Linked DNA regions of Homo sapiens: regions 1, 3 and 4 are each linked to region 2. The links come from fine-mapping of genetic effects on gene expression. A gene starts in region 2. Each other region holds a variant in brackets. All regions are shown on one strand. Distances are from middle to middle. Region 1 overlaps PLCG2 (phospholipase C gamma 2). Region 2 holds the start of PLCG2 (phospholipase C gamma 2). Region 3 overlaps PLCG2 (phospholipase C gamma 2). Region 4 overlaps PLCG2 (phospholipase C gamma 2).

Evidence for each region.
Region 1: its variant is fine-mapped to the expression of PLCG2 in whole blood (TOPMed, PIP above 0.99).
Region 3: its variant is fine-mapped to the expression of PLCG2 in whole blood (TOPMed, PIP above 0.99). The same link has a PIP of 0.9 or more in putamen.
Region 4: its variant is fine-mapped to the expression of PLCG2 in whole blood (TOPMed, PIP above 0.99).

Annotation. Positions count from the first base shown.
Region 1 is chr16:81,932,706-81,940,258 of GRCh38, reverse strand. PLCG2 (phospholipase C gamma 2) reads right to left here. Exons shown (of 33, transcript NM_002661.5): 26 at 5,728-5,830; 27 at 3,881-4,090; 28 at 2,356-2,501; 29 at 1,344-1,458; 30 at 200-367. Among named protein-coding and RNA genes, the nearest start is that of SDR42E1, 75 kb to the left of the region's middle. The variant T/C (reference allele first, on the strand shown) is at 3,505.
Region 2 is chr16:81,776,303-81,783,855 of GRCh38, reverse strand. It overlaps PLCG2 (phospholipase C gamma 2), which reads right to left and starts at 4,565. Exons shown (of 33, transcript NM_002661.5): 1 at 4,432-4,565. It overlaps LOC105369213 (a long non-coding RNA gene), which reads right to left. Exons shown (of 4, transcript NR_189584.1): 4 at 6,503-6,684. RefSeq lists silencers at 4,260-4,339, 4,350-4,449, 4,480-4,749, 4,778-5,072.
Region 3 is chr16:81,839,615-81,847,167 of GRCh38, reverse strand. The region is part of intron 2 of PLCG2 (phospholipase C gamma 2); the gene reads right to left. Among named protein-coding and RNA genes, the nearest start is that of PLCG2, 64 kb to the right of the region's middle. RefSeq lists an enhancer at 4,377-4,436. The variant C/A (reference allele first, on the strand shown) is at 4,494.
Region 4 is chr16:81,924,183-81,931,735 of GRCh38, reverse strand. It overlaps PLCG2 (phospholipase C gamma 2), which reads right to left. Exons shown (of 33, transcript NM_002661.5): 23 at 4,558-4,654; 24 at 3,112-3,178; 25 at 82-239. Among named protein-coding and RNA genes, the nearest start is that of SDR42E1, 84 kb to the left of the region's middle. The variant T/G (reference allele first, on the strand shown) is at 2,767.

The DNA of each region.
Region 1 (7,553 bases), 160 kb before region 2:
TAGCCTCCCCTGTCACCCACTTCCTCCCACCTGTGTGCTACACGACAGGCTGTACACCTGCTCTCCAAGCCACCCAATCGGTTTTACAGTGATTCCATCCAAACCAGGAAAAATCATTTTTCATTCTTTTTGAAGCCAGCAGCCAAACCAAAGTACAACGCCAGCCCAAATCGAACATCTTAATTAAAATGCCTCTTACCTGATTTGACTGCTTTAATGGGGTAAGTGGCATGAGCAAGAAAGTTGGGATCGCTGAACATATCTTCTTCATAAACCACAAAGCGCAGAAATGCCAGGTTTGGGTCATAAATTTCAAATGTCACCTTCTCCTGTGTTGGAGCCCAGATAGGGCTGAGGCCATTATCATCTGGAAGGAGATCAAAGCTCATGAGAGGCCACATTGGAGCTGCCCCCTTCTGGTAAGACAATCTCCGCATCCTTCAGCTGTGAATCCCCTTAGCAACCATGTAAATAAATATGCATCTATGCCAAGATCTAAGAAAATCTGAATAATTATCTTCACTCCCCCACCCCACCTTGAGCAATCCTGGAAGCTGCTGTTGCAGGCTGGTCCCTTGGTGAGCAGAGGAAGGAGACCACCTCCCATCTCCCCGCCCCAGGATCAGGGACAAGGGAACGGGGGAGGTGTTTGTTTGCAGAGCAGGAAGGTGGATTTTGGAAAAGACAAAAGGGGAGGAGAGCCTGGGAGCCACATCCACCAGCAGGGGGTTCTACAGCTGGCAGGGGAGAGCCCAGCCTCACAGAGCAGGCAAGCAGCAATCCTGCCACTCTCCATAAATGCCAGTTTATTTGGTCAGCATCTGAGTTGTTCATTGGGCTACTTTTTACCAGGGGCAAGGATCCTGTGCTTTAGAAGGCCCACCAATCACGGTTCCCTCCTGGCTTTTCCTGGAAGAGCAAGCATTCCTCTTGTCCCTCCTGCCCTCTAGGGGCTAAGATCTCCCAGGTTAGGCTGATCCTCTGGGTCAGGTCAGCCACGTAGGTTCACCCCCTCTCTCTGTGTCTCTGCCTCTTGGCCTTTGACTCAGGAGATTAATCAGATTGGGCTGTTGCACAGAGAGGACCAACCTAGTGTCAGGGCCTCACCTACGATTCCGGACTTGAGTTACAGGCAGGCAAACAGCACTGGGGAAAGTCTAAGGATTTCAGAAAGTGGCCCTTTGTATGTATCCCCTCCTCAAGCTGAACCATGTGGGCAAGAGGGAGGAAAGAAAACCCTGGGACAACTAAAGAGCATTGCAAAATCCCCCACGAAGAGCACTCCCACAAAGGATTCACTGGCCGGACGTTTAAAAGCAGAGGGGCCAAGGTGACTGACTTACTCACAACCGTCGTCTTGAACTTGTTGTTGTCATACTCGGCTCCACAGATCTCCACTTCTACAAAGGGACAGGCAATACTTCGTCCAAGTTTGGGGAGATGGCGAGCACCGAGAACCTGGGACACCAAAGGGAAGCATTGGAACCCCCCTGGGGTCCTGAACAGGCAGCCTAGCGTGGATTGCAGCTGGGTTCTAGAGTGACACTGGATGAGTTCAATGCCAGCCCTAATTTTCCTAGATTCACTGGAAAAGCCGGAGCAACCTTCTGCAGTGGATGAAGGTGGACTGTGGTAGATCCCACAGTTCCTCAGCATCAGCCTGGGTCTCGGCCCCATATGCCACCTGACTCAACAGGTAAAACTCACCTGAGCTCATGAATGCACACATCCATGCCCAAGCAGGTGCCTCTGATCAAGGCAGAGCTTAATCACTGGATTTCCACACCCCTAGGAAAGGCTGAGGAACAGTGTGGCATTCTTTTTATAACTGCTGTTTATTTAAAGGCCTGTGTTTACGTATGCTTCTTCCCCCTACCACCCGCCCGCCCTTAACCTTAGGAGAAATGCAATTCATTTCTCTACTTTTCAAAAATTCTTACAAAGCAACAACACTTTCTCTGAAAGTCAGATGAATTTTAAAAAGCCCTGGAATTGGACAAAGTAAGGGAAAAAACTTCTCCATTAAGACCAAATGGCTGTTTCCCATGTTTTCTTTCTCTTTCCGGCCAGAGGCTGACCTCACCAGGACCCCAGAAAGATAGGGTCATACCTCACCCCCACAGAGGACAAGGGGAAGTGGGTTTGAGGAGGTTTCCCCTCTCTTCCCTCTTCTCCCAGAACGACCCCGGAGTGTACTGTAAGAAAGAAAGATCCTCAAACACTGCCTGAATGGGGATCGTTTAAACAAGACAACCAGCCTCCCTAGACATGGGTTCCCTGCTCTCAAGACAGCATCGGCCCAGCCCCCAGGGAGGGCGGCTGGCTCCCCTGGCAGGAAGGGAGGGCTGGCTTTACCTTGACTGTCAGCGTCATCAGGATCTTCCTCTGGGACTCGGGTGGCATCGGGTCATATTTCTCTGTCCTCATGCTCTCAGGCTGCAGAACGTAGCCCGTGCGCCCATTGAGAGAAAACAATGCGTGATTCATCTGCATGTACTTATCTGGGAAGGAAAGTGAACGCCTGCTGTAAGTCAGGCATGAGCACGCTGGCCCCCTAGGCCAGGAGTTTCTAGGTGGGGAATGAATTTCACCTTTTCCCCAAATTAATGTGAGGCAGCTGTTCAAATAGGTATCTCACTCAAAGAAAATATAGGGTTTCTAGACAGCAAACTCCCAGACTGGGGAACACCTTTCCAAGTATGTCACCAAATCCCGAATCATAAAAGAAAAGATTCAAACTTGCTAAAAGTGTCTATGTAGCAATAAATTGCATAGGCAATTTTAATTCAAATGACAAATATGTGAATATAAATTTTTAACCTCTTAGTTCTGATACATCTATGCTATAAATACCTACTGCAGTAGATACATCAGGTAAGAAGCACAAATAGTTCCCAGAAAAGAAAATGCCACTGCTCCCTAAATGAGGGAAAAACTGGTTAATGTCCCTTACAAGAAGAAGCTCTAATGGACGACGATGTATCAGTTTTCACCTCTCAGTTGTGCAAACGGCAAAAAGTTCAACAAAACTCAGCGAAGTCATACCAAAAGAGCGTACTCCAACCTCCACCTATTTGCATCCCCGCCCACGATCTCTATGGAGGGCAGTTTGGCAGTGTGGCTTAGCTCAGGCACGTCTTCAGTGGTTTTCCTCAGGGCAAAGTTGATCAAAATGCAAGCGCTGTTTGACCCACCCTGCCTTTCTGAGAATTCTGTCCCATAGACATATTCCTACATCTGTGGAATGGCGCTCACGTCAGGGTACAGAAGGCAGTGCTGTCTATGACAGCAAATAATGGGGAATACCTACATGTGCCTCCACGGGGACTTATTAAATAAATGATTGTTCCATTCTGTGGAATCCGATGTGGCTATAAAAAGAATGTAAAGGAGGCTACTGATGAATAGATCCCTCGAAAGAGGTCTTAAATAACAACAACAAAAGCACAAAGCCCCGTGATTTATGCGATCACTTTGTGTCCAGAAGTTTGTGTATGTTAGTTA[T/C]GCCAGCATGTAAATGTCTCTGGAAGAAAGTCTGAGCAGAAAGCCCTCACACAGCAACAGGCCTGGAGAAGAGAACTCCAAAGATGCTTTAATTACATGAACTAATGCATTTTCTTTTTCTAAGCCAGACTAACTCAGCCTCTGTCACTTACTTACAATCACGAAGCCTGCGTAAGCCAAGCAGCCTTCGGTCCTCTCATCCCTCCATTCAGCTGCTGGACCTCATACTAACCATTACTCTGCTGAACCGTGCAGTCCCTCGGACAAATCACTCATTCTTGGACACCACATGGTATCGCTGACCCAAGGTGACTCGGCCTGGAGTGACTGCAACCGCCACCTTGCAGGGACGGGACTACCTTCAGTCGGCCTTTACCTGCCGTCTGGAAATTGAGTGCCACCATCTGAGAACCGCACAGCCAGAGGCGGAAGGGGTCGTAGTTTGAAGAGTCAACTCTTTGTCCCTTTGGGTAGACGCGGGTCAGGCCCTTTTGATTGTACTTCAGGAGGTCGACGGGCTTCTGTCTGATGATGCTGTCAGCCTTCGTCTCCACAAAGGAGCGGATTTCTCGGAAGTCAGGATTTTCTGCACACAGAGAAAAAGGTCATCAGTACTTCTGTGTCTCATCTGTGCATTTTCTTAATGTTTGCTGCAATGGCTGGATGCTCAGATTATAAAAGGAAACCAGGAATCTCCCTCTTTGACATTCAAGGGGTTCTGATGATATTGTCCCAATTGGTATCACTGTGGACTCTTGCCCTCTGGGGGTTCCAAGTATTAAAAAGGGGCCTAGTTTTCCCACCACCTTTTAGGCTAGAATTACTGTAATTTACTTTTTTTTTTAAACTATCACCATCCTTGAACAAGAAAACACAAAAGTGGTACAGTTATAGAAGAGGGAGAATGGGAATGGTTTTGGGTAGGAGAAGATCTTGGGAGGGGAAGATCCAGAGAGACCACAGACACAAGATGAACAAACTGAGAATCACCTGCCAAAGCCCACAGGTAGGGTTGCAATGTGGGTGCCTGTGCAGGGAAGGGAGAACAGGAGGAGAGGGAAGGGGACAGGCCTCATCTTCTCTCCCATCCAGCTGTGGTGGGATAGCCCGGCAGTCAACATGCTGAGCCTGCTGAGTCCCTGAAGGTAGAAGTTCCTAGGGACTGGCCTCCCGGTAAGTTAACTGAGGGGTCTAGTATTGTCTGGCTGGTCTTCTGTTCTAAGATGAAAGATATGGAAGCAGCTCAAAACACCCAAAGAAAAAAATACGTACAGCATCATCAAAAAGCTTGCTACCTGGAGAATGTGGTAGAAGGTCTTTTTTTTTTTAAATGGCCCCCAAAGATGTCCAGGCCCTAATATCTGGAGCCTGTGCATGTCACTTTATATGGCAGAACAGACTTTGCAGGTGTGATTAAGGAGCTTGAAATGGGAGGCTTATTCTGGAATATCCAGGTGGACCTAATGCATCACAAGGGTCCTTATAATAGGGAAGCAGAAGAGGAGAAGGCCAAGGAATGCCAGCAGCCCCCAGAAACTGGAAGAAGGGAATGGCTTTCCCCTCCGGAGGGAGCACAGCCCTGCTGGCACCCTGATGTTGACCTCATGATACTGATTTCAGACTCTGGCCTCCAGGACTGTGCAAGAATAAATGTTGTTTTCAGCCACCAAGTTTGTGGTAATGGCAGTAAGAACTAAATCCACCCACTAAGTGGGTGATATGGTTTGGCTGTGTCCCCACCCAAATCTCACCTTGAATTGTAGCTCCCATAATTCCCACGTGTTATGGGAGGGACCCGATAGGAGATAATTGAATCATGGGGGTGGTTTCCCCTGTACCGTTGTTGTGGTACTGAATAAGTCTCGCGAGATCTGATGGTTTTATAAGGGTTTCCCCTTTCACTTGCTTCTCATTCTCTCTCCTCTGCTGCCATAATTGTGAGGCCTCCTCCACGTGGAACTGTGAGTCCATTAAACCTCTTTTTCCTTATAAATTACTCAGTCTTGGGTATGTCTTTATCAGCAGCATGAAAATGGACTAATACACCAAAAAAGCTTCTGCCACCAGCTCCCTCACTCGGAGGACAAACCCAAGGTGGGGCCATCTACTGGGAGTAGTTAAGAATGAGAGAATGCACTCTCTGCCCCCTCTGAAAATATCAGACTCTAAAGGAAGTTAAGTTTTCATTGGAGTTATAGGGCATGTTCTTGGGAAAGATGTTACCTAAGTTGTCCTTGGTTTTGCTGGTTGGTTTGCAGTAGACAACCAGGTCAGAGAGCTCGATGGCGATGGACTGGTTCTTCTCCCAGTACTTCATGTTGTTCTCCTGTTTGGAGTTCACTGTCTTTAGTGCCCGCCCCCGAGAAATCCCATCTTCCCAGCTCGCCCTGCATTTTTCCTCCTCCATCCCCACTTTGCTTTCTTGCACACTCGGATCTTTAATATGGTTGAATGTTTTCCTTTCCTGAAGACAACCCTGCCCCTCTCGTTTCTTCCTCTCACTGTGAAAATTCTCGACAAAGCTGTTTCCACGAGGTTTTGGTGTGCAGCTCAGTCCTGGCCACAGCCCTCAAATATAGGTGAGGTCAGGATGGAAGGGGGCTCTTCTCTGTCACCACCCCTCTGTCTTTAACTCTGCCTCCTGTCCCCTCCCCTAAAGCCACACTGTTAGAGTGTCTCAAATTCTAGTTCTTCAAATCCTCGGGGGCTCTGTGGACCCCAGCATCCTCGTCATAACTCTCTATCCCCTGCACCCTCAAAACCTGCACACCTGCTCCCCAGCTCTGACTGCCCATCAGGGCTCTGTCCAAGGGGACCACTACCCAGTGCCCAGGCCATGTGCCATGGACTCAGGAGGTACCTCCCTTCAGAAGACCCACCATCAAATCTAACTCCTTGCATGTAAGGATGAGCTTCTCACTTCACCCCAAAGCAGGCAACCCTGTTGGGCCTCCCCAAATTCTATCAGACTTTTATTGGCCAAGGGGGGACCTTGAGAGAATATTTAGATAATAATGGTGACTGTTTGGGGGGTGCTTAGCTCTAGCCGTCACAGGCTAAGCACTTGAGGGATATTACCTAAGTCAATCCACACCCTGACAGGGAGAATTATCTCCATTTAACAAAGAAGTTGAGTAGCCTGGGCAACAGAGTGAGACTCTGTCTCAAAAAAAAAAAACAAAAAACAGCATGACAATTACTCTCCAGGCCTGCAGCTGTCACCCCTCAAGCCATCTCAGAATGGGAAGTCACAATACAGTTGGTGAGGCTCTGGAAACCCACTAACTAGAAGGATTTTGTGACTGCCCTCTGCCATCAATGAGGTGGCTACAGACCGTGTAACAATGCGGGCACTTAGGGACAGGCAGAGGTCCTGGCAGTGACAAAGAGTTTATCCGCCGCTGGTTTCCCAAGAGTGGGATGGGGCCTTCTTCCTTTGCTCCCCAACACCAGCTCCGCAAAAGGGGTAGCTGTGCCCAGTGTGGGAACTCCGTCAACTCTACTGTCCCAGTTTTTTTACCCCTCAGATGTAATAACAGGACTTTAAAAATCATTCTCATGAAATCTCAGTAAATATAAAAACCAGTTAGAGAGGAATGCAGACCAAAGGCCGCCAACAGCAACCTTGAACAGCTCAGCTTCATTTCAGGAACCTTCACGCGGCAGGAGAGGAGGTGTGAGGCAGGGGAGAGACAGAGCCTTCTAGGGAAATAACACTTTTCCACATTAAGCAAAGTAGAGAGAGCTGGAGTGCACTATTTGGAGATTTTTTAAATAAACCTCAGGGTCGTGGCACCTCCCTGTGCCTCAGAGCTGTACTGTGGCATCAGAGACACTGGAGGGCAGAAGAGATGGTTTCACTGGGAAAGCCAGAAGGACAGCGCAGCTGGCTACAAGCTCATGGTTCCTCCCCCATGGCTGGTGGTGTGAAAAGCCATGGGAAGAATTAGGAGCCCTAGGGAAGGCCCCCAGGAGTTCCTGGGTCAGAGAAAGACGATGCCCCACCAGCGAGGGCACCCATGGACCAGTCCCCTCTGCAAAGTCTCCTA
Region 2 (7,553 bases):
GAACAGAGTATGCTAAAAAAAAACCCTGCTGAGAGTTAATGTGCATCTTACCTTATCAGGAGAAACCCAAAATGACCTCCTGATCATTAGCCAGGACAAAGGGATGAACAAGGTGCCCCCATGGTCCATTTCATCCTTGTTAAGCAGCCATTTATTGGGCCCTTCCCCAGGTGCCAAGCACCTGTTGTGTCTGGTTCGTCTCATTTATCTCAATGGGAAATACGGCAGCGGAAAACTGAAATCCCAAGAGGTCACATTACTTGATCAAAGTCATGTAGACCAGCAGCAGCACAAAGATCAAAACCCTCACCTGAGTCCCAAGCCCCTAGTCCAGAATCCTGTGGCAGCATCTGGCCAGATATTAACTGATTTGCCAGTACTTGCCACTCTCAAAAGAGGTTAAGGGACTTATCCGAGGTCACACAGATAGAAAGTAGCAAAACGAGTTAATGGGTGCAGCACACCAACATGGCACGTGTATATATATGTAACAAACCTGCACGTTGTGCACATGTACCCTAAAACTTAAAGCATAATAATAATATAATAATAAAATTTTAAAAAAGTAGCTGAAACTGGATTTGACCCAGCTGCCAACCACAGAGCTCTTCACTATGTTGACTGTTCCCAGCCATGCATCCTGGAGTTCCCCACTCCCAGGTCTCTAGGCCATAGTCCACTGGAACATAAGTAGGAAACACAAGCCCCATTATAACACCTTCAATTAGACAGAAACCAGGACAAGGGACCAGGCTCCTCAGTTCTTTCCAGCCCTCACTCTGGGAGGGCCTTGGACTTAACCTTCCCCAGGGTCCCAGTTACTTCCAGCTTCGAAGCCCAGTGGATCAACTCAGCCATAAACACCAGACTTCCATGCTGCGTCTCACCAATTGCTTTGTAATAGCTGCTCACAGGTTGCCCTAAAGGAGCAGGGGTGGAATTTACACTCTCACCTGCAGTGGCTGACACCGTTCCTTTGAAAACACTGTATCCCCTCTGATGCTGCAGGGTGGGTGTAAGGTGCAGCAGTAATGTCCATTCAACTGTTGGAGGGGCCCTTACCACTCAAGTATTTGCCTGTGCCCCATTTTAACAGAATCGTTTTGTGGGATTTTGGATGAAATCCTGTACTGGCTTAACATGCACAGAGCACTGAAGAGAAAAACTTCCTTGATTTCTGGTTTGGGGTTCTTGTATCTCACGAAATGCCCTTCTAAATAAGCTTGTGAGATACAAGAACATGAATGAGCTTATGAGATGCAATTGGAAACAGATCTTCACGGCCAAAAGATCCCTGGAGTCCACCATTCAAATCCTGCCAGCACCCAGCTCAGGTCTCCAGCGTTCCACGCTTTATCAACTATGGCAGGGAGGTCTCCAAGACCTTGAGCCCAGGAGAGAGCACCAGCCACCACAGCAACTTCCATTTTGCTTCTGCTTTTTTTGGTTTTTTCAAAAAAAGAAAAAAAAAAGCCTTGAAATCCCTTTTTTGTTCCTGTTTCCCATTCTTAATGGGTAATTCTATAAAATGACTTATTTTGTAAATACAAATATGGCTGAGTTTGAATAACTGATTTTTGCCATTTTTACATTTCATGTCCTTCTAAAGGTTTTTCTTGTATCTCATAAGCTCATTCATGTTCTTGTATCTCATAAGCTTATTTAGAAAGGCATAAAATGGGCCAGGCACGGTGGCTTATGACTGTAATTCCAGCACTTTGGGAGGCCGAGGTGGGCGGATCATGAGGTCAGGAGATCAAGACCATCCTGGCTAACACGATGAAACCCCGTCTCTACTAAAAAAAAATACAAAACAATTAGCCGGGTGTGGTGGCACATGCCTGTAATCCCAGCTACTCGTGAGGCTGAGGCAGGAGAAAGGCGTGAACCCGGGAGGCGGAGCTTGCAGTGAGCCGAGATCGCGCCACTGCACTCCAGCCTGGGCGACAGAGCAAGACTCCGTCTCGGGGGCGGGCGGGGGGGGGGGGGGAAAGGACATGAAATGAGATGCGAGGACCCAAAACCAGAAATCAAGGAAGTTTTTGTCTCTTCAGTGCTCTGTGCATGGTAAGCCAGTACAGGATTTCATCCAAAAATCCCACAAGACAATTGTGTTAAAATGGAGCACAGGCAAATACTTGAGTGGTAAGGGCCCCTCCAACAGTTCAAGGGACATTACTGCTGCACCTTACACCCACCCTGCAGCATTAGAGGGAATACACTATTTTCAAAGGAATGGTGTCAGCCACTGCAAGTGAGAGTGTAAATTCCACCCCTGCTCCTTTAGGGCAACCTGTGAGCAGCTACTAAAAAGCAAAACACGCATATGCTTCGATCCTGCAATTGTACATGTAAAGAAAGACATGCACAAAGATGCAATATGTACGACAGAAAATCACGGAAGCAATAGTTGCAATAGAAATACAAAAAAAGAAAAAAAAACAGAAAACAACTGCTCATCAATGTGGGGGGCCTCCTGGATAAATAATGGTGCACATGCACTGAAGAACGCTCAGTAGCCATCAGAAAGAATGAGGATGATAGATAAGCAATTTGATCTGGAAAGATTTGTGAGGTCAATAAAAAAATAGCTTCAGACAATAGTTGCAACTGTATGAGTATAATACAATTCCCTTTTTATAAAGGTGATCTTCTGGTAAATCCAGGAGAGTGGTTACTATTTATCGGAGGCTGGGAGAGGGTAGAGGATACAACTTGACTTTATTTATATTAACTGATGATGTAACGGGCAAATTTTTCTCTTTGTGTTCTTGCTGTTTTCTAAATTAAGAAGTGTTTGTGTGTGTTTGTTTGTTTGTTTGTTTGTCTTGAGATGGAGTCTCTCTTGTCACCCAGGCTGGAGTGCAGTGGCATGATCTGGGTTCACTGCAACCTCCACCTCCTGGGTTCAAGTGATTCTCCTGCCTCAGCCTCCTGGGTAGCTGGGATTACAGGCGGCCACCACCACGCCCAGGTAATTTTTGTAGTTTTAGTAGAGATGGGGTTTCACCATGTTGGTGAGGCTGGTCTGGAACGCTTGACCTCAAGTGATCAGCCCAGCTCGGCCTCCCAAAGTGCTGGGATTACAGGTGTGAGCCACCGTGCCTGACCAAGAAATGTTTTCAAAAGTTTTCTCACCAGCAGCTTTTCATTGACTCTACCCAATGAGTGCAAAAGGGCTATTCATGGGGTCTGTGCTTTTCCACTTCCAGAGGAACTGCCCATACTCCAGTCGCTGGTGGGGGAAGGCAGCTGCATCATTAGGTGACTTAAACATCAGTGAGGCTCACAATGACGATTGTCCCTGAGCTGGTATACACGTGACTGCACACACACCTTTGCAAGAGAAACTGCTTGAGGCTGGCATAGACTTCAAAATTCTGTAAAACTTCCCCGCAGAACTGTAGTCAAGGACGAGGGCCCATGCCCCAGAGAATGCCCTTGAACCAGAGAGTCAGGAACTGCCCAAGGACTCTCCATGGATGCGCCCCGATTCTCAGCGAACCTCGTGGAACAGCAATAAGCCCCAATTCTCGACACAGCCCTGGAAAATTGGGTGGCTCCAGTATCCAGAGGGGGAAACAGACTCAAAAAGGTTCTTCAACTTGCCCAGGGTCCCACTGATGGAACTGAAATTCAAATTAAGTTCCGACGGGCAAGGCCACCTGTTTCCCTCGCGCCATGTCACCCCTTTACCACCCCGCCCCCCATAGTTTCTCACCCTAGTTCAAGATTAGGGTACCAAGAGAGCCCCGCCCCACCGTCCTGCTGGAATCCAGGAGCTCCCCGTCCAAACGGGGCACGTCTTTAACCTGAACTCTTGCGCTGTGCGGGTAATGCCCTCTTTGGGATTCCAAAACACAACAAAACACAACACGCACAGACACACGCATAATTACGCAGACAGCTGCGGAGCGGGCATCGCGAGTGTCCTGCAAGCTCTCCAAAAGTCTCCGGGAAGGACTGCGCCTCCCGCGGTATCGCTCCCACCCGCCACCCGCAACCACCGAAGTGAGACAGGGAAGTGTGGCTCCGAGCGTCCGCGAGCTCTGGGCACAAGGGCCGTCAAGAGAGACGGCGCCACCCCACGCAGAGCCGCTCGAAAAGAGGAGTTTTGAACGCCAGCCCCCACACGACCCCTGACCTTCCTCCCGGTCCCCATTCAAAGCTGGGGCCGCCCCACCGCACGGACCGGAGAGGTGGCGCCGGCCCGGGGTGAGGAAGTGGCCAGCGGCTGGGCCAGGATCCCTGCCGTCACCAAACGGACCCCGGGCACGGCGGGCCGGGGTCCCCGAGGGTGCGCCCCGTCCCTGCCCGCTCCGGCTGAGCCAGGACGCAGACCCCCTCGGACGCAGCGCCCTGGGAGCCGGTCCCCGCGGGGCGCAGGTCCCTGGGCGCCCTGCCTGCCTCGCTCCCGGCCGGGCAGCTCACCTGGCCGTGCCGCCCGGGCACAGCTGCCCGCCTGCCCCGGGTTTGGGCTCCGGGGTCCCGCGCGCGCAGCCCGCGTCCCGACTCGGGTCACTCAGCGCCGCTCACGCCCTCCGCCGCCGGCGCTCGCTACTTCTGCTTCGGCCGCGGCGCCGCGCCACGTGATCCTCGGGGGCCGCCCCCCGCACCGCCCAGCCTCGCCCCGCCTCGCCCCGCCCCAGGCGCGCCCAGCCGGGTCCGCCTCTCGGAGCGCACCCCGAGTGCAGCGTCCCCGCGCCCTCCCCGCCATGGAGCGGCCCAGGCCTGGAGCCCCGCCTCTGCGTGCCAAAGAAGAAACTGAGGCAACCCGAGGGGAGGCTACCTGCCCGAGGCCACTTGGCCAGGTGCAAAGGGAATTCCCCAATATCATGGCATTCCTGGAGAGCCGGCCGCAGTCCAGGTGTTTGCCGTATACTTAACACACTCCCGGCCGGGCGCCCGGGCTCACGCCTGTCATCCCAGCTCTTTGGGAAGCCTAGACGGGAGGATCGTCTGAGCTCGAGAGTTCGAGACAGCAATGAGCTAGGATGGGTGTGGCCGAGAGACACTCCGTCTCAAAAATAAATAAATAAAAATTAAAAATAAATATACTCTTCACAATTACCCGCCAGGAATTGCCAATTCATGGCCCTAATTTGAAGCCCTCGTTGAGGCTGCGCTGGAGTCAGACCAACCCTTACTGCTACCTTAGGCAGACCACTTAAAAACCGACAGCCTCAGTTTCCCCATCTGTAAAACGTGATCAACATAGTGCCAGCCCCAAAGGGAGTCAGGAGCAAAGAACCCCAGACAATTGATGTCCCGTTTTCCTGATCTCATGGGAAGAAGCTAATATGTTCTTTAAGAAATTTATTTTTCCGTTCGTGTGTTGCATGAAGCTATCTGATTCAAACCCTTCCTATGCTCTTTGATGGAGGTATCTTTGTTGTGACTAGAGGCAGTTTCAGGGGCACCTAGACAGCTGTCAGGCACTTGAATTTCACTTCCAAGTTGCTTGAGTTATAGCTTCTGTTTTCTAAGAGGCAGGGTCTCACTCTGTCACCCAGGCTGGAGTGCAGTGGTGCCATCATAGCTCACCACATCCTCGAACTCCGGGACTCAAGCGATCCTCCTGCTTCTGCCTCCTGAAGAGCTGGGACTATAGAGGCACACCACACTTGGCTAATTTTCTCTTTTTTCGACATGAGGTCTCACTATGTGTCCCAGGCTGTTCTTGAACTCCTGACCTCAAGCAATCCTCCTGCCTCTACCTCCCAAAGCACTGGGATCACAGGCATGTGCCACTGGTCTGTTATAGCGTTTTTTTTGTGTGTGTGTGTTTTTGGTTTTTTTTGTTTTTTTTTTTGTTTTTTTTTTGTTTTTTTTTTTTTTTGAGACAAAGTCTTGCTCTCTTGCCCAGGCTGGAGTGCAGTGGCACGATCTCGGCTCACTGCAACCTCCACCTCCCAGGTTTAAGCGATTCTCCTGCCTCAGCCTCCTGAGTAGCTGGGATTATAGGTGTATGCCATCATGCTTGGCTAATTTTTTGTATTTTTACTAGAGACGCGGTTTCACTATGTTGGCCAGATTGGTCTCAAACTCCTGACCTCAAGTGATCCACCCACCTTGGCCTCCCAAAGTGCTGGGATTACAGGCATGAGCCACTGCACCCGGCCTGTTATAGCGTTTTTTAATTGAGGAATATCACTCTCACTGTCAATGTTGTATCCCAAGCCATAGGACTCGTTTGTGACTTCACAAGATCTGTGGATTCATTTCTTTCAGCACTCCCAACTGGCGTGTATAGCTGTGCTCATCACCACAGATCACTTAACACATCAATTTTTTAAAGAGATCTTGGAAGGACTCATTATGACATCAACCACTTGAAGTCATTGGGCCAATTCCCCAGGAAAAATGACTACATCTAGGGGCAATTCCTTTGCCTCACTTTTTTTTTTTTTTTTTTTTTAGAACTTCAGCTTGTATTTATTTCAACCAATCTTTTTCACACTTTTGTTTTAGTATGTGTTATATAAAGTACATAATATATTAGTTCAGTCATATATATGTATAATTTATTATTACAAAGTCTACATGGATAGGGGAGTGGGTTAAGTCTCTTGATGGCAAAATGAGATTGCATATAATCAGAATGTGTGGAGACCACTCTAGGGAGCCGTGGCTCCTAAAAGCCTATCTTGACAGATGCCAATTCTGGCTGGATTTTTCTCTCATCTGTGGGAAGCAAGCAAAAAAATAAGAACATGAAGAACAGGTTTCTCTGTTTAATCTATGCCTGTGAGCCTATAGTATTTTTGAGTTAAAATGTCCACTGTGTGTGAGATAATGGTCATCGTAAATGGCAGTTTGCTTTTTTTTCTTTCATGTTTTTAATTCATTTTCTTCTTTGGCTCATTTTTTGCTAACCAACCCCTAGCCCAACCCCACCCCCCAGGTGAACGACTGAAGGAATCAGTGGATTGAAAGAGAGTACTGGAGGCCCTTCATCTCTTTCTCAAACTCTAACTTGGTTGTTCAAAATAAAAATAATCTGCCAGGTGCAGTGGCTCATACCTGTAATCCCAGCACTTTGGGAGGCCAAGGCAGGCGGCTTACCTGAGATCAGGAGTTCACGACTATCCTGGCCAACATGGTAAAACACCCTCTCTACTAAAAATACAAAAATTACCCAGGCATGGTGGCACACACCTGTAGTGTCAGCTACTCACGAGTCTGAGGTAGCAGAATCGTTTGAACCCAGAAGGCAGAGGTTGCAGTGAGCCAAGATGGTGCCACTGCACTCCAGCATAGGTGATAGATCAAGACTCCATCTCAGAATTAACAATCGTCGTCATCATCAAGGCGGCAGGCGCTGTTCTGGGAGGACTCTAATGTAAAATGACACTTCTTTTCCCAAGGATAATAGGTGGGGAAGGAACCATTCTGTGTATTCTTTCTTTTCCATGGAATAAAATAGGTAGGGAAAGAAACCACTCTGAGCCGGGCGCGGTGGCTCACGCCTGTAATCCCAGCACCCTGGGAGGCTGAGGCGGGCGGATCACGAGGTTGGAAGATCAAGACCATCCTGCTTAACATGGTGAAAA
Region 3 (7,553 bases), 63 kb before region 2:
TTCCCTTAGTTGTGTCAGCCATTCTAGCAAATTAATCAAATCCAAGGAGTGGGTTATTGGAACCCCAATTTATAGCCAGTCAGTCAAAAGCATAGGCCACAACTTGGGCTTGTGACTGGCACCTGAAATGGGACAGAGTCTTGAGGGACTGAGCTCTCAACCTGTGGAATCTGATTCTAGCTCCAAGTAGATAGTATCAGAATTGAACTGAACTAGAGGACACCAAACTGGTGTCCAATGGAGAATTGTTTGCTTGATGCGTGGGGGGAAAACCATACACATCTGGTGTCAAAAGTGTTGAGTACAGAGGGAAGAGGAAAGAGAAAGAGAAAAAAAACACACCTTGATTTTTCCTTTCTCTGAGGTGAAGTGTTTCGTGCTGTATTGAATGTGAATTGAAAAAAACCTTTTCTTGTATCTCTATTAGATTTTGGTTGGGATTGTGTTGAATCTATAGATGAAGCCAGGAAGAACTGATATCTTGAAAATATTGAGTCTTCCTATCCATGAACATGGACTATCTACTCATGATCTTTTTAAGCATTAGCCATAAGCCCGATGTTCTGCTGGATGTACTTGATCCTGGCCCTCAAGGGTCTTACAGATACAGTAGCCTCATCCTTGAGGATAAAAATAAATGCTATATAGCAAAACTCTTACAGAGCACCTACTCTGTGTTAGGCAGAGTGCTAATGTTTTGCATGTTATCATAGGTTGGTTCCCTGGAAGTTGAGCCTGAGTCAGGAATTCTTGCTCAAGTGTTTACTGGGAGAGTGCAGGAGTGGGATGGCGAGCAGAATAAAGCTAAACAAGGCTGTGGTCCCACTTAGGGATGGGCTTCACCCTGACTGTATAGGGAGTGGCGGGGGGATGTCTGGAGCATGAATCACACCGGAAAAGTAGGTCCTCCTGAAGGAAGGGAGGCCAGTCCTCTTGTCCTCCCTGCCAGTCAGTCATTGGCTTGGCTTACAGCCACTACAACCTCCTAGGTGATGCAGATTTCTTCTAGTGAGAGCAGTGCCCTGAAGAAGGGGCACCTGTGAGCCACGACACCCAACACTCCTAGCAGCTGGGAAATGGAGCACAAGCCTGGTAATGGGAGCTGAGTGGGGCACAACAGCATCCTCTGTATTAACTCATCGTTCCTCACAAGAACACTATGAGGCAGGTACCATGACTGCCCCTATTTTACAAATGAGGAAACTGAGATGTGGAGAAGTGAAGTACCTTGGCCAGGGTCACCAGCCACAAGTGCAAGAGCCAGCATTTGAACTTTGACTCATAGTCAAGCAAGTGACTCTAAGAAGCCACATAAGAATATGCAGCTCTCTCCAGGGTTTTCTATCTGGTATTCAGCAAAGTCTGAGGGGGTCGGTGGGCATTTTTGTTGACATCTCCACCCCTTGATCTTACATCAGGCAGGGGCATCTTGGTGAATGATGATCCCACTACCCACAGGGGTGCAGAGCTGCACAGAGAGCGGTCAGGCCCACTGCGCTCAACGCAGTGCATTCAAGCCACCTTTCTGACCCGAGGCTGGGAACAAGATTCTAGTGCAGGGGCTGCAAATTCATGTTCCCAGGAGCTATCCAAGTCATGAGGAGCAGTGTCGCTACTGATGAGGTGGACAGACTCTGGAACCTGGAGTCCCAGCTCCCCAGCTTATAGCAGATAGCTTTGGACAGTAACTTCAATTCTCTGTGCCTCTGCTTCTTCATGTGAACAACAGGAGTGATAGTGATACTTACCACACAGTGCTCTTGTGGGGATTAAATGAGTGTGCGACTGTACATGTGTGTTTGTCAATTAAAATAGTACCTGGCAAAACAAAAATGTAGGGGAAAAAAAACAAAGATGTAGAAGCTTCTCTGTACTTGTTAGCAACTGAATCAAGCTGGACACATATAAGGCATAAGAAATAACACGGGACAGGGAACAATGGCTCATGCCTATAATTCCAGCACTTTGGGAGGTTGAAGTAGGAGGATCATTTGAAACCAGAGAGTTCAAGACCAACCTGGGCAACAAAGCAATACCCCATCTCTAAAAAAAAATACAAAAAATAAACGCAGTTAGCCAAGTGTGCTGGTGCACACTGGTAGTCTCAGCTACTCAAGAAGTTGAGGGAGGAGAATTGCTTGAGCTCAGGAGTTTGAGGCTGCAATGAGCTGTAATCACAACTCTGCACACCAGCCTGGCAAGAGAGCAAGACCCTGTCTCAGAAAAAAAGAAAGAACATGGTGTCTCAATTTATTTGCTGTGAACATTAAGGAGGCAGATCCTTATGTACCGACATGACAAAAACTCCTCGATGACCTGTGTAAATAGGAGACTAGATGTATGCATCCATGTGTGTACACACATACATGGCCATGTGTACATGTACATATTATATACAAGTGTCCATCACTATGCAAATTCTCACTATCTGAATGTCTACTATAACTTATTAACTCTTTTTTTATGCAAAATGCACAATCCAGATCATAGACCTGCTGTACGAGGTTCACGAGCACCTAGGTGCCAATGAAAACAGTGAAGGTGTGGGCCAGGCACAGTGGCTCACGCCGGTAATCCCAGCGATTTGGGAGGCCTAGGCAAGCAGATCACTTGAAGTTGGGAGTTTGAGACCAGCCTGGCCACCATGGCAAAACCCTGTCTCTACCAAAAATACAAAAATTAGCCGGGCATGGGGGCATGCACCTGTAATCGCAGTTACTAGGAAGTCTGAGGCAGGAGAATCACTTGAACCCATTGTGGGGGTGCAGAGGTTGCAGTGAGCCAAGATCACACCACTGCACTCCGGCCTGGGCAACAAGAGTGAAACTCCATCCGAAAGAAGAAAGAAAAGAAAGGAAAAGAAAAATGAAAAGGTGCCCGGGCGCGGTGGCTCACGCCTGTAATCCCAGCACTTTGGGAGGCCGAGGCGGGTGGATCACGAGGTCAGGAGATAGAGACCATCCTGGCTAACACGTGAAACCTCGTCTCTACTAAAAATACCAAAAAAAAAAAAAAAAAAAAAAATCAGCCGGGTGTGGTGGCGGGCACCTGTAGTCCCAGCTACTCGGGAGGCTGAGGCAGGAGAATGGCATAAACCCGGGAGGCAGAGCTTGTAGTGAGCCGACGTCACACCACTGCACTCCAGCCTGGGCCACAGAGCAAGACGCCTTCTCAAAAAAAAAAAGAAAGAAAGAAAAAGAAAACAAAAGAAAAACGAAAAGGAAAAAGGAAAAGGAAACAGAAACAGAAAAGGAAAGGAAAGGCGTGTCTGTCTGCAATGGAAGAGAAGCAGTTAGACACACAACCAACGGCACATCAAACCCGGCATCCTGCCCATTCTATTGAGTTCTTCTTTCATCCCAGCATTTGCTTCTGACAAGCAAACTACCAACCAGGGTCCAATTTAAATGAATCTTTAGTATTTTAAGCAGATCATTTCATTGTTTTTTCCATTACAGTACAAGGTAGTTGGAGGATAGAAGAATATCCTAATTCAGAAACATTACTGTATAGTATCCTATGTACTTTTTGCAAACATGCTTAGCAATGGGTTCATCAAAGCACCCAAAAATTGGGCATTTGTTGCTGTAGATGCTTTGTATTCACGCGAAAAATATTGGTAGGCTGATTTTAGGTACTTAAGGTTGTTAAGTGATACTAAGGAAATTGGCTGGGGTGTTTCAATCAGTTGGTAATGCATCAGCGCTTGTCTCTGTGTAATATGATGTAATATATTGCAATCCAAAAATGTTCCTCTCCAGTGTGTTTTCAGGAATGTACTGGATTCAGCTAAGAAGGAATGTGCCTATTTGTAAGTGTGCACGTATGAGTGTAAAGGTGTGAGAAAGGGTACCAAAAGATTTCCACCAACTTGCTGACAACAGGCACTACTAGTGAGAAGGAGATGGGCAAATGATGGTCAAGGAGGGCTTTGTCTGCATGGGTTCAAATTTTTGCCAAGGGCTCATAGTGACTGAAACAACACTTTATTCTCAAAGTAGGCTGTGGTCAGCAGACCTCAGGCCATGCACTCTTGCATGGTGGGGCTCAGTGGCCGAGTTTCCTGCTTGAAGAAAGTGAGATAACCCAGCCACAGAAATGAGGCTTCATCTTTGCACAACCCCACCCCCTTCCCAGCATCACCTCGGGTCTTCCCAGGTCCACCCCACCCCCACCACCCATCCCTCCACTCCCACCCCCTGCAAACAAACCCCCACACACTGAGTCTCCTAGAGTCAGCCTCAAAGGCCGGCACCCCACTCCAGCCACCCTCCCTCAGCCCTCCCTGCCTACCCATCACCTTCTGGCACAGCCTTGCGGACTTTTGGCCCCTCCGTACGTCTCATAGCTTCCTCTCACTCCCCGCTTTACACCACCGACCCCTTTGCTGGCCGGGCCATGACCCTGTTCTTCAAGCTCCCATTTCCTTCCTCCTCCCGCTACTGATTCTCTGTCTCTCTCAGGCTCCCTGCACCCACGGAACGTCCTCCCAC[C/A]CCTGACACCAGGAACATGGCTTTTTCCCCAATTCCCATACATGACCTCAAGGGGCACCACACCTGACAATGAGCTTAACAAAAATTTCTCTCTGGAAGCTCAAGACATATTCAAGCGAGCAAACAGACAGACAGAAGGCTTGGGCACCTTCCCACACATACCCCAACCTCTTTTCCGACTTTCAGTTATTCAGTCAACCAGGCAGTCACAGAACCCCACGCTGAGCGCTAGGGATGCCACACTGCAGAGACAGACACAGTCCTGCCCTCAGACGGCTCCGAGTCTGGGAGGGAGGACAGGCCCTGTCCAGGCCGGCATATGATATGTGAATATCCACATCTCCATCCACATCAGGAGTGCAACAGAGTCCACACTGGGGCTCCTCCCCAGCAAGGGGAAGAAAGGCTTCTCTGAGCACATGCATCCTGGCTGAGTTCTGCAGACTGGAGCTCACCTGGGAAGAAGAGGAGAAAGCCTCCCTTTGTAGGGAGTTCTGGAGTACAAAGACCTTGGTTCAAATCCTGGCTTATGCTCCCCAGGGGTGCACAGGAACCAGGCACGTTGCATCCCTTCTCTTTGCTGTTTCCTCCGCTGTACAAGCAGTGATGCTTATCATTGAGTTGTCATGCAAACCAAATGAAATAACATGAAATAAAAATCACGTGGCCCCAGGAGGGCTCCACCAAGGTGAGTTTAGCTACTAGGCTGAATGGTTTTCTGTACCACCTTGCAACACCAGCTTCCCAGCTGCTGGTGGTTTCACTTTAAGTAAAAAGCCCCAGCGTTGCTTACTGATCTCAGCCAAGGACCCTGCTTTAAGAAAAACCAAAGGTGTTAGGTTACTTCACACATGTAGCAGCGTCTGACATGGCAGCTGGGGGAATAGGTGAGATACACAGCAGAAGAACATGTAATGACAAAAGGGGCTTCCGAGGCACACACGGTAGAGCAGAAAGAGCCCAGCTCTAGAAGGATCTAGCAGGCATGAGTTAAATCCAGCTCTTTCTCTCCTGGCTGTATGAAGAAGCCTCTATTCTGGCTTACTGTCTATTTTCTCATCTATGAAATGGAAAAAGAACATACACCCTATAGAGATATATCTGAAAAAAAACTTTGCAAAAAGTAAAGTTTACAGCCGGGCGCAGTGGTTCATGCCTGTAATCCCAGCACCTTGGGAGGCCGAAGTGGGCAGATCACTTGAGGTCAGGAGTTTGAAACCAGCCTGGCCAACATAGTGAAATGCTGTCTCTACTAAAAATACAAAAATTAGCTGGGCATGGTAGTAAGCGCCTGGGTGCCTGTAATCCCAGCTACTCAGGAGGCTGAGAAGAACGGCTTGAGCCCAGGAGACGGAGGTTGAAGTGAGCCAAGATCATGCCACTGCACTCCAGCCTAGGCGACTCAGTGAGACTCTATCTCAATAAATAAATAAATAAATAAATAAATAAATAAATAAATAAATAAATAAAGTTTACTTTTTGGCCTGCAGATAGGGGGTGGGCCTGCCCTTATCTTCTTTGTTAAAAAGATAATAAACAACAGAGTTGTTGCCACTGCGCTGACAGCAGAGGCGAAAATCAGTGTCCTGCTTCCATGTGAAGAGATTCTTCCCAGATCATTATGCTCAAATAATTAGGTCTGTGATTCTAATGCTTCATATTCATGCAGAACTATTCAATAGATAAGAGTTTTAAGTGATACTGGGGAAACTGGTGCTTCTCTCCCCTCTGGGACTCCCCATCCCCAAGGGAGGAAGGGACCACTCCCTGGAAAAAGGAACTGAGGATACTCAGCCTCTTCATCTTGTTCTAGCTGGATCCACCCCCAAGGGACCACGTGCCCTGCCCTGTTCCTTGCCACTCGGAAGGGAGCTGCCTCCAAGACAGGGGTCCCCAATCCCCAGGCCATGAACTGGCACCTGTCTGTGGCCCGTTAGGAATCGAGCCGCACAGCAGGAGGTGAGCAGGGGTCTAGCGAACATTACTGCCTGAGCTCCACCTCCTGTCAGATCATCAGCGGCGTTAGATTCTCATGGCAGCACAAACCTTATTGAGAACTGCACATGTGAGGGACCCAGGTTGTACACTCTTTATGAGAATCTAATGCCTGATGATCTGTCACTGTCTCCCATCACTCCCAGATAGAACTGTCTAGTTGCAGGAAAACAAGCTCAGGTCTCCCACTGATTCTATATTACGGTGAGTTGTATAATTATTTCATTATATATTACAATGTAATCATAATATAAATGAAGTACACAATCAATGTAATGCCCTTGAATCATCCTCACACTATCCCCCCAGGCCAATCTGGCCCATGGAAAAGTTATCTTCCACAAAACCGGCCCCTGGTGCCAAAAAAGTCTGGGACTGCTGCTCTGAGACACCTATGGGCATCCACCCAGGCCATGACAGGGTGGGCAGCTCAGGGGCCAGCTGTCAGGGCTCAATTCTAAGCATGCTCTCCAGGCAGCCATCTCATCGCCCTTCGTTGATTGCCGATGTTTCATTTCTCAATCATTTCCAAACTCAGGAGACAATGAGAAAATGAGGAGCTTTATGTGCTCACCACTAACACCCCCAGCATGGGCCATCAAATAATTCTTTAAGTTTTTTTGGAGACAAGGTCATGCCCTGTCACCCAGGCTGGAGTGCAGTGGCACAATCACAGCTCACTGCATCCTTGAACTCGTAGGCTCAAGGGACCCTCCTGCCTCAGCCTCCCAAAGCCAGGTGACTGGGACTACAGGCATGCACCATCACACCTACCTAAGTTTTCTCTTTTTAGTAGAGACAAGGTCTCACTATGTTGCCTAGGCTGGTCTCAAATCCCTGGCCTCAAGTGATCCTCCCATTTTGGTTTCCCCAAGTGTTGGGATTACAGGCATGAGCCACCATGCCCAGCCTAAATGTTCATCATTTTGGTGCCATTTAAACTTGGTGTTTTTCACCCTCCTGCTGGTAATTAAATTTAAATGGTGCCCACCCTTTGTTATGTCTTAACTGTAGTATATTTTAAAATATATTGAAAAAATACATACCTGGCACCTCTAAACTATG
Region 4 (7,553 bases), 150 kb before region 2:
TGGACCCACCCACAGTCCCAACTGAGCACCAAAGCCCTCAGAATGCCAGGCCCACCTGCACCCGGGTGAGCAGGTGCCTACCTTGGTGTCAATCTTCCAGGTGATCTCTCGGATGCTCTGAAACCACTCAAAGAGCTCCTCCACCCTGTCTGTGGCAAACTCCACCGGAGGATCGCCCTGCTGCTTGGGCTCCAGGATGAAGACAAAGGACTTCTGGTTTTTTCCCTGAGGGGCTTTCACTTGGGGTAAGAGAATAAGAAATGTCCCAATCAGCCTATTAGAGGGCCACAAAGACCAGACTGCACCCTGCCTGAGCTGTTTCTCTCATGGACCAACCACCACTGCTATGACCACGGTTAGCACTGATGGGGACGTCTACTTTCCATCGGGGTAAGTACACATCACAGATGACTACTCAAGGGATGCAGTAGATTCAGTAGGGTCCTCCGAAAAGATGTGTCAGGTCACCAGTACCTGTGAATGGGACCTTATAGGGTCGTTGCAGATGTACTTAGGTTAAGGATCTCAATATGAGATTATCCTGGATTTAGGGCAATTCCAACATCCAACAAGTATGAGTATCCTTATAAGAGAAAGGAGAGGGACACTTAAGATGCAGGAAAAAAAAACAAACATTAAAATGCATGAGAGAACCTGAAAAAAATACCCTCTTGTCCACTTTAGTTATAGACATGTGTTCGTCTTGATCAAAAGAAACACTGAATATCTTTTTGGTTGACCAATTAGAAAATGCTTTTTACACTCATCATAAATATTTTTTACAAATTACTAAAACAATACATGTTCATTTTAAAAATATTTAAAATATAGCTAAGCAACTTGGCATTTTTACAAAATGTTTACATACAATACATAAAATTTTGTGAACTGTTTCACTTAGCATATTGTGCATAATTTTCTATGTTGTTACATATAATCTTTTACATATAAAGAATAAATAATTTAAATGGCTTTTTTTTTTTTTTTTGAGACAGGGTGGCACTCTGTCACCCAGGCTGAAGTGCAGTGGTGCGATCTTGGCTCCCTGCAGCCTCCACCTTCCAAGTTCATGCGATCCTCCCACCTCAGCCTCCCTAGTAGCTGAGACCACAGGTGCACACCACAAAGCCTGGCTAATTTTTGTATTTTTTGTAGAGAGGGGTTTCGCCATGTTGCCCAGGGCTGGTCTCGAACTCCTGAGCTCAAGCGATCCACTCACCTTGGCCTCCCAAAGTGCTGGGATTACAGGAATGAGCCACCACACCCAGCTAAATGGCTTTAAAAACAGATGCAGACACAAGGGAGAAAGCCATGTGCAGGCAAATGTGGAGACTGAAGAATGCAGCCATGAGCCAAAAACACCAAAGAGTCACCAGAAACTAGGAGAGAAATGTGGCGTGGGTTCTCCAGACACAGAGAAAGGATCTTACAGAGAAGAAAAGATTATGACAGGGAAACTTATCTGCCAAATAATATTAGTAGCTAAGATTTCTGAGCTCTTATATACCAGGCAATATTCTAAGCAGATTACATGTATTGCATCTTTATTTTATTTTATTTTTTTAATTTTGAGCTCTTGCTACATTATCCAGGCTGGTCTCAAACTCTTGGGGCTCAAGGGATCCACCCACCTCAGCCTCCTGAGTAGCTGAGACTAAAGGCACCCTGCTTTTGCTAGGCCCATTTTGCAGGAGGCAAAACTGAGGCTCATTAAGAGAAAGTCACATGTGGAAAGTCATACAGCTAGTAGTAGTAAAACTGAGGCTCAGTTCAAACCTGACTCCAAGATTTCTACTCAGAACCAATGAGCCATGTGCCTCTGCTCTGCAGATACAGGGATGGGGGAAGATGATACAAAGAGCACCAGAAGTGGATGCAGGGATCCTGCACCCCCCTGCCCAAAGGACCTCAGCACATGTGGTGGTCGGTCACTTAGGACCTTGATTTTCCCATCTGGTAATCGGAGCAAAGAATCCCTCTCCTACCTATCCTGCTGGATCATTGTAAAGGTAAAGAAGCAGGTTATAAATGTGGAAAGCAGGCTGGGCATGGTGGCACATGCCTGTAATCCCAGCACTTTGGGAGGCTAAGGCAGGCAGATCACTTGAGGTCAGCAGTTTGAGACCAGCCTGGCCCACATGGCGAAACCCTAGCTCTACTAAAAATACAAAAATTAGCCAGGCACGGTGGCCCATGCCTGTAGTCCCGGCTACTCAGGAGGCTGAGGCAGGAGAATCACTTGAATCCAGGAGGCAGAGGTTGCAGTGAGCCAAGATCACGCCACTGCACTCCAGCCTGGGTGACACAGCGAGACTCTATCGCGAAAAGAAATAATAATAAATGAATGAATGTGTAAAGCAGAGCATTGGCAATAGAAGCAGGAAGTTCCTGGGGCTGCTGTCACCTGAGTCCTAGGGGAGCATGCCCGTGCCTGCCCAGGGAGGGTCATGGGCTGCCCAGAACAAGGAGGCCCGCTACAGAGTCCCTTCACATGGGAGCTGCACCACACCCACTTCAAAGCAGGCAGGCTCAAGACCCAGGAAACCCAGCACACATCAGACCCTGGCCACCACTGGACAAGCCTAGCCTTGGGGCCACGCCTTCACATCCCGTTGCAGCATGGTCAACGTGGGCGGGCTGGGTTTCCTGGGCCCCAGCCGAGCAACCAGGAAGCAGAGGTTCAAAGAGGAGAAGTGACAGGCCTGTAGTCTCACAGCGACAGAGAGGCAGAGCTGGGTTTAGAACCCAAGACTCCCAACTCCACGC[T/G]GCATTTCAGCCAGGCTGACAGCTCAGCTTTCCTTCGCAACGCATGGGAAACACAGATGGATCCTGAAATAATAAGAGTGACGCTGGTAATAATATCCGCTAACCACCATCTAGCACTTATGTACGAGACCTTGTTTTAGCACTTACAGTTTTAGTAGAGATTAATAGCAGACATAGCATCATACTCACTGACCAGCCTGACCTAAATACTCAGCTTCAGCCAGGGAAGGAGCTGGCATTCAAGACAGGACCCTGTGTCAGCCACCTCCCTGTGTAGGGCGGGGCTGAGGTCAGCCCATGGGGGATAGGGGTGGAAATCCAGGCTAAGATGATGTGTGCACGTACCGACGTTATAGGTATTGAGGTCCAATATTCCTCTGCAAAGAGACCCTAAGGGATTGTCTTCAATAATCTGTGAAGAAACAAGACATAACTCACGTTAGTTGTAACGGGAATAATAAAAAGAAAACCCGTTTCCAAAGCACACCGTTTAGCAGAGATACTGCCTGTGGAACTGTTTAAAATGCATTTTCATTACCAGATACGTCCATGGGGAGAGAGCTAAATAATGAAGCATGGAGCTGATAGGGACCTGGCGGGGAGAGGGTGCCAGGAGGTTCGGAGTTTCATTTTCCAATCCGTAAAAACGTGCCTTGTGAATTCTAGAACAGGTTTCATAATGCTTCCTCAGATCTGGTTTCCAAACACATCCTAGACTATTTATCTGACCTTATTAGAAAATGAGACTATTTTGCCTACTAAAGCCCGGCTCAAGAACCTTCTGTGGCTCCCCATGTCCTGTGGAAGCAACACCCATGCTCTATGACCTGGCTTTTAAGACTTTCAGAGCCCCCATCACCCTTTCCAGCTCTGCCTCCCATTGCACCCTTGAACCATCCCAGGGTCTGGCTGAGATGAAGAATATCCTGGGCTTAGGAGAGGTGGCAGAACCAGGCATCCACTCCTTGCCTGCACCACCCCAAACCCCACCCCCTGCACCAGGTAAATGCTGATGTACAGGTAAGGGCAACTCAGTACAGAGGAAGCAAGGGCTTCCAGTCTCTGCCTCAGCCCAAGCACACGGAACACAACCACATTCCCACTGCCACACCTTTGCTTAGACTGTACCTCCCACTTGCACCTCTCTTCTGCCAGTCTCTTGCTGTTGAACTCTAACTTGACTTTTAAGGGTCAAATACTCCTTCCTCCAGGAAGCCTTCCCAGATTGCCCTACATCCCTTAGAAAATAAACACCTGGGGGTCTAACGGGATCTTAAAATCCTCATTACAAAGATATCATCCTTGGTGGAGTGCTAGCACGCTGAAAGTGGCTGCTCTCTAAACAAGAGGCGGCGAGGGAACAACCACCAGGTTTGCAAAGTCACCAGGAAGGCCTCATCTCACCTCTGGTTAGGCCCACTTGCTTACTCGCCCCAAGCACGTTCTCAATGTCTGGCTGTCCAATATAAATGTGTTTCATCTGCAAGTTGCTTAAGCAAAGGACAAATTCCCCATTTGGTCACTTTCACTCCAGCGGGAATTCTCCTGCATAATGAAATCCTTCCAAGCCCAACACAACCTGATTAAAACACGGCCGGCTTGTCACAGCAACTCACCCACAACAACTCAATCTCAATTTCCCTATCATCACTGTGTCTTCCCTGATCCAGAGCTCCACAGAGACCACAAGCAGCACATGGAAAAATTCACCCACTGAGATGGCACAGCTCCCTGAAAAACTGGACCTGCAGATCCCTTCTTCCTGTAAGAGGATCGAAGAGGGGGACTCACCTGCTTTTCTAGCTCCTCGAAGTCTGCAGTTGAGATGTCCTCGACGTAGTTGGATGGGAAGTACTGCTGGATCCTGGTTCCATAGTCTCCTTTCCACCTGGATAAGAAGAGAGGACATGGGGGCGCTGTCACCAGGTGGCATGAATTACCCACTACTGCTCATCTGCACCCGGCTGCTGGCTCAATTCTGATGGGGACAGACAGCAAGTGGCCAAGTGACCAGTGTCACTATCTGTGACAATGGAGCATCTCAAAGGCAACTGCTGTCTTTTTATTTTTTAATTACTAATGAGTTACTGGGGGCTGATTTTACCCCCATCACATGATCTTAATGTTTAATCAAAGATCACAAGTCAAAAGTTTCCATGCTTTACGTGGAAGTCAGAGACCATACAAGACAAAAGTTCACCCCTATTTCGGGGAGGTTGTGAATTTAGAGAGAAGGTGGTTCTGGAGGCAGACAGGCTGGAATTAAACTCCAGCTCTACCACTGACGGTGGAGGCTTTCTGTGCCTCCAACTCTCCATCTGAAAAATGCATAAACGTGAGTGCTTCCCTCAGAGGGTTTTATTAGGACTCTAAATTAACATAAGCTGAGTGCTTGGGACAGCGCCTACCTAGTACACAGTAAATACTCAATAGTGTTAGCTCTTATTATTATTCAGCTAAAACATTGTTCCCTATCTTTATAACAACACTAACAACACGGGACATAATCCATCTATGAATGTTCCTGGACCCCACCAGACGGTGAGCACCTCTAAGATTCCTCCCGGCAAGGCCGTGCCCAGACATGCAAACGCCCTCCTTCAACCTGCCCATCTCTTGAGCTATTTTCCGCAGCCAGGGACTCTCCAAAATGCACCTCTGACCACACCACATGATGGCTCCCCAGGGCCTCCAGAATCCAGCCCAGACTCTTCAACATGGCAGCCACGGCCCAGCACAGTCTGACCCCAGGACTCCCAGACATCACCTCCTAACTCTCCATGATGTTGACTCCAGCTGGCCCGTCGTCCCTATCATGCCCCTGCCATGCTGCCTAGCTTCCATGCCTTGGCCCATGCCCTTGGTACCCAACTTCCCCCCACTAATTTAAGACTCAGCTTGGGCATTTCCTCTCCCACGGAGTCTTCCCTGACTGCCCCCTAGGCTGAGCACTCTTCCTCTGTGGTCCCCTGGCATCCTGTCCCCACAGTCATCCAAGCAGCCACATCTTATACTTAACGTATAATTATACATCTGTCTTCCCCTCTATATGATATCCTTCTGGATTTTTTTTTTTTTTTTTTTGAGACAGAGTCTCACTCTGTCCCCCAGGCTGGAGTGCATGGCACGATCTCAGCTCACTGCAACCTTCGCCTCCCAGGTTCAAGCAATTCTCCTGCCTCAGCCCCGCCAGTAGCTGGGATTATGGCATGGGCCACCATGCCTGGCTAATTTTTGTATTTTTAGTAGAGACAGGGTTTTACCAGGTTGGCCAGGCTGGTCTCAAACTCCTGACCTCAAGTGAGCCACCCGCCTCGGCCTCCCAAAGTGCTGGGATTACAGGCGCAAGTCACTGCACCCGGCTGACCTTTCTGGATCTTAATCAAGTCTGTGCTCCGTGGTGGTGGGAAGAACTTAACAATTTTTTGGTCTGAATAAGCAGAGTGAGGACTGATGCTACCAATTCACCTAGCAGAGACACAGGACTGCGGGTTGTAAGCCCTTTTCACGCCCCCCCGCACCATTTCTCCAGACCCACTTCTGGCAAGGGCTGGCTGTATTTACGGCGATCATATATACCATCTGTCCAGGACTGAGCACTTTACATTCTCTTCACTCTCAGGAGCATCTTGGTTCAGACAATAATTGTTTGGTCCCCTAGCTACAGGGAACCAGTTTGGAAGTATGCAAAAAAGCCGGTTTCACCCAGGCGGCCCCCTAGGTAGCACTACTGCCATCAGAGAGAGGAATTGACCACAGCCGCTGGGCGGTTTGCCCACAGTCCCTTGCCAAAGGGACTTCTGACAGTCTCTTAAGACAAGAGCCTTCGAAATTCAGAGAACTGCCTGTCAGAGGCATAGAAAGGCATGAGGCCATCTCACACAGAATGGAAAACCGTGATTTGGAGTAGTCACCTGGGCTCCAGCCACAACTCCAAAAATGTTGTTAGTCACCCACCCAGTGCGCACCAGGATGTTGACCAAGGCAGGGACAGGAGCCCAGTGAGGGAACGCCAGTGTGCCTGGAAGAGACCTCAACTCTGTGCCACTTCGAGTGGAGGGACTTCGGCAAAGCCGAGCCTCTGAACTGGGAGAAGCAGACGGACAACACTGTGGTTGCCCAACTGGGTCTGGGAGCCTCCAAGGGGAAGCATCAGAGGCTGCAGTAGGAACAGCAATGTCAGCAAGGAGGCCAAACAGGGCAATTCTACGCCCCCACTCCAGCTCAATGGGTAACTCGGCTGCATCTTTGATTCTGTGGAATCTAGGTATGAATTGGTTTGCAATGAGGTTCTCCTGATTTTAAGAAAAAGTTTGATAATCCCTGGATTAAGGCATCTTGCAAGAGGACAGGGAAGGACTTAGCAGATGAATGGAGTTAAGAGTGTAAGCTCTGGAGTCAAAAGGCCTGGCGGTTCAAATCTCAGCCTGCTATGTGGCCCTGGACAAGTGACTGCACTTCTGAAGGCTTCAGTTTCCTCATCGGTAAAATGCAGGTAACAACAGAACCAACCTTTTACAGTCATCATGTAGACTCAGTTATTTCAAATGAAGTGAGTTATTTCAAACGTGCTTAAAACAGTGCTTGACACATAGAAGCACTCCATGCATGCTGCTATTCAGATTCCTAAGCCAGGTCCAGTTATCTTGTGGGAGGCAGAAATGCCAGTCTATGAGGTGCTTAAACCAGTGCTCACTATTATGAGCAAGTTCTTATTGCTCTCAGACAGAAGTCACCCCACAAAACCACTTCCCCAGAAACCTATCAGTGGGCAGTGAATTTTTCTT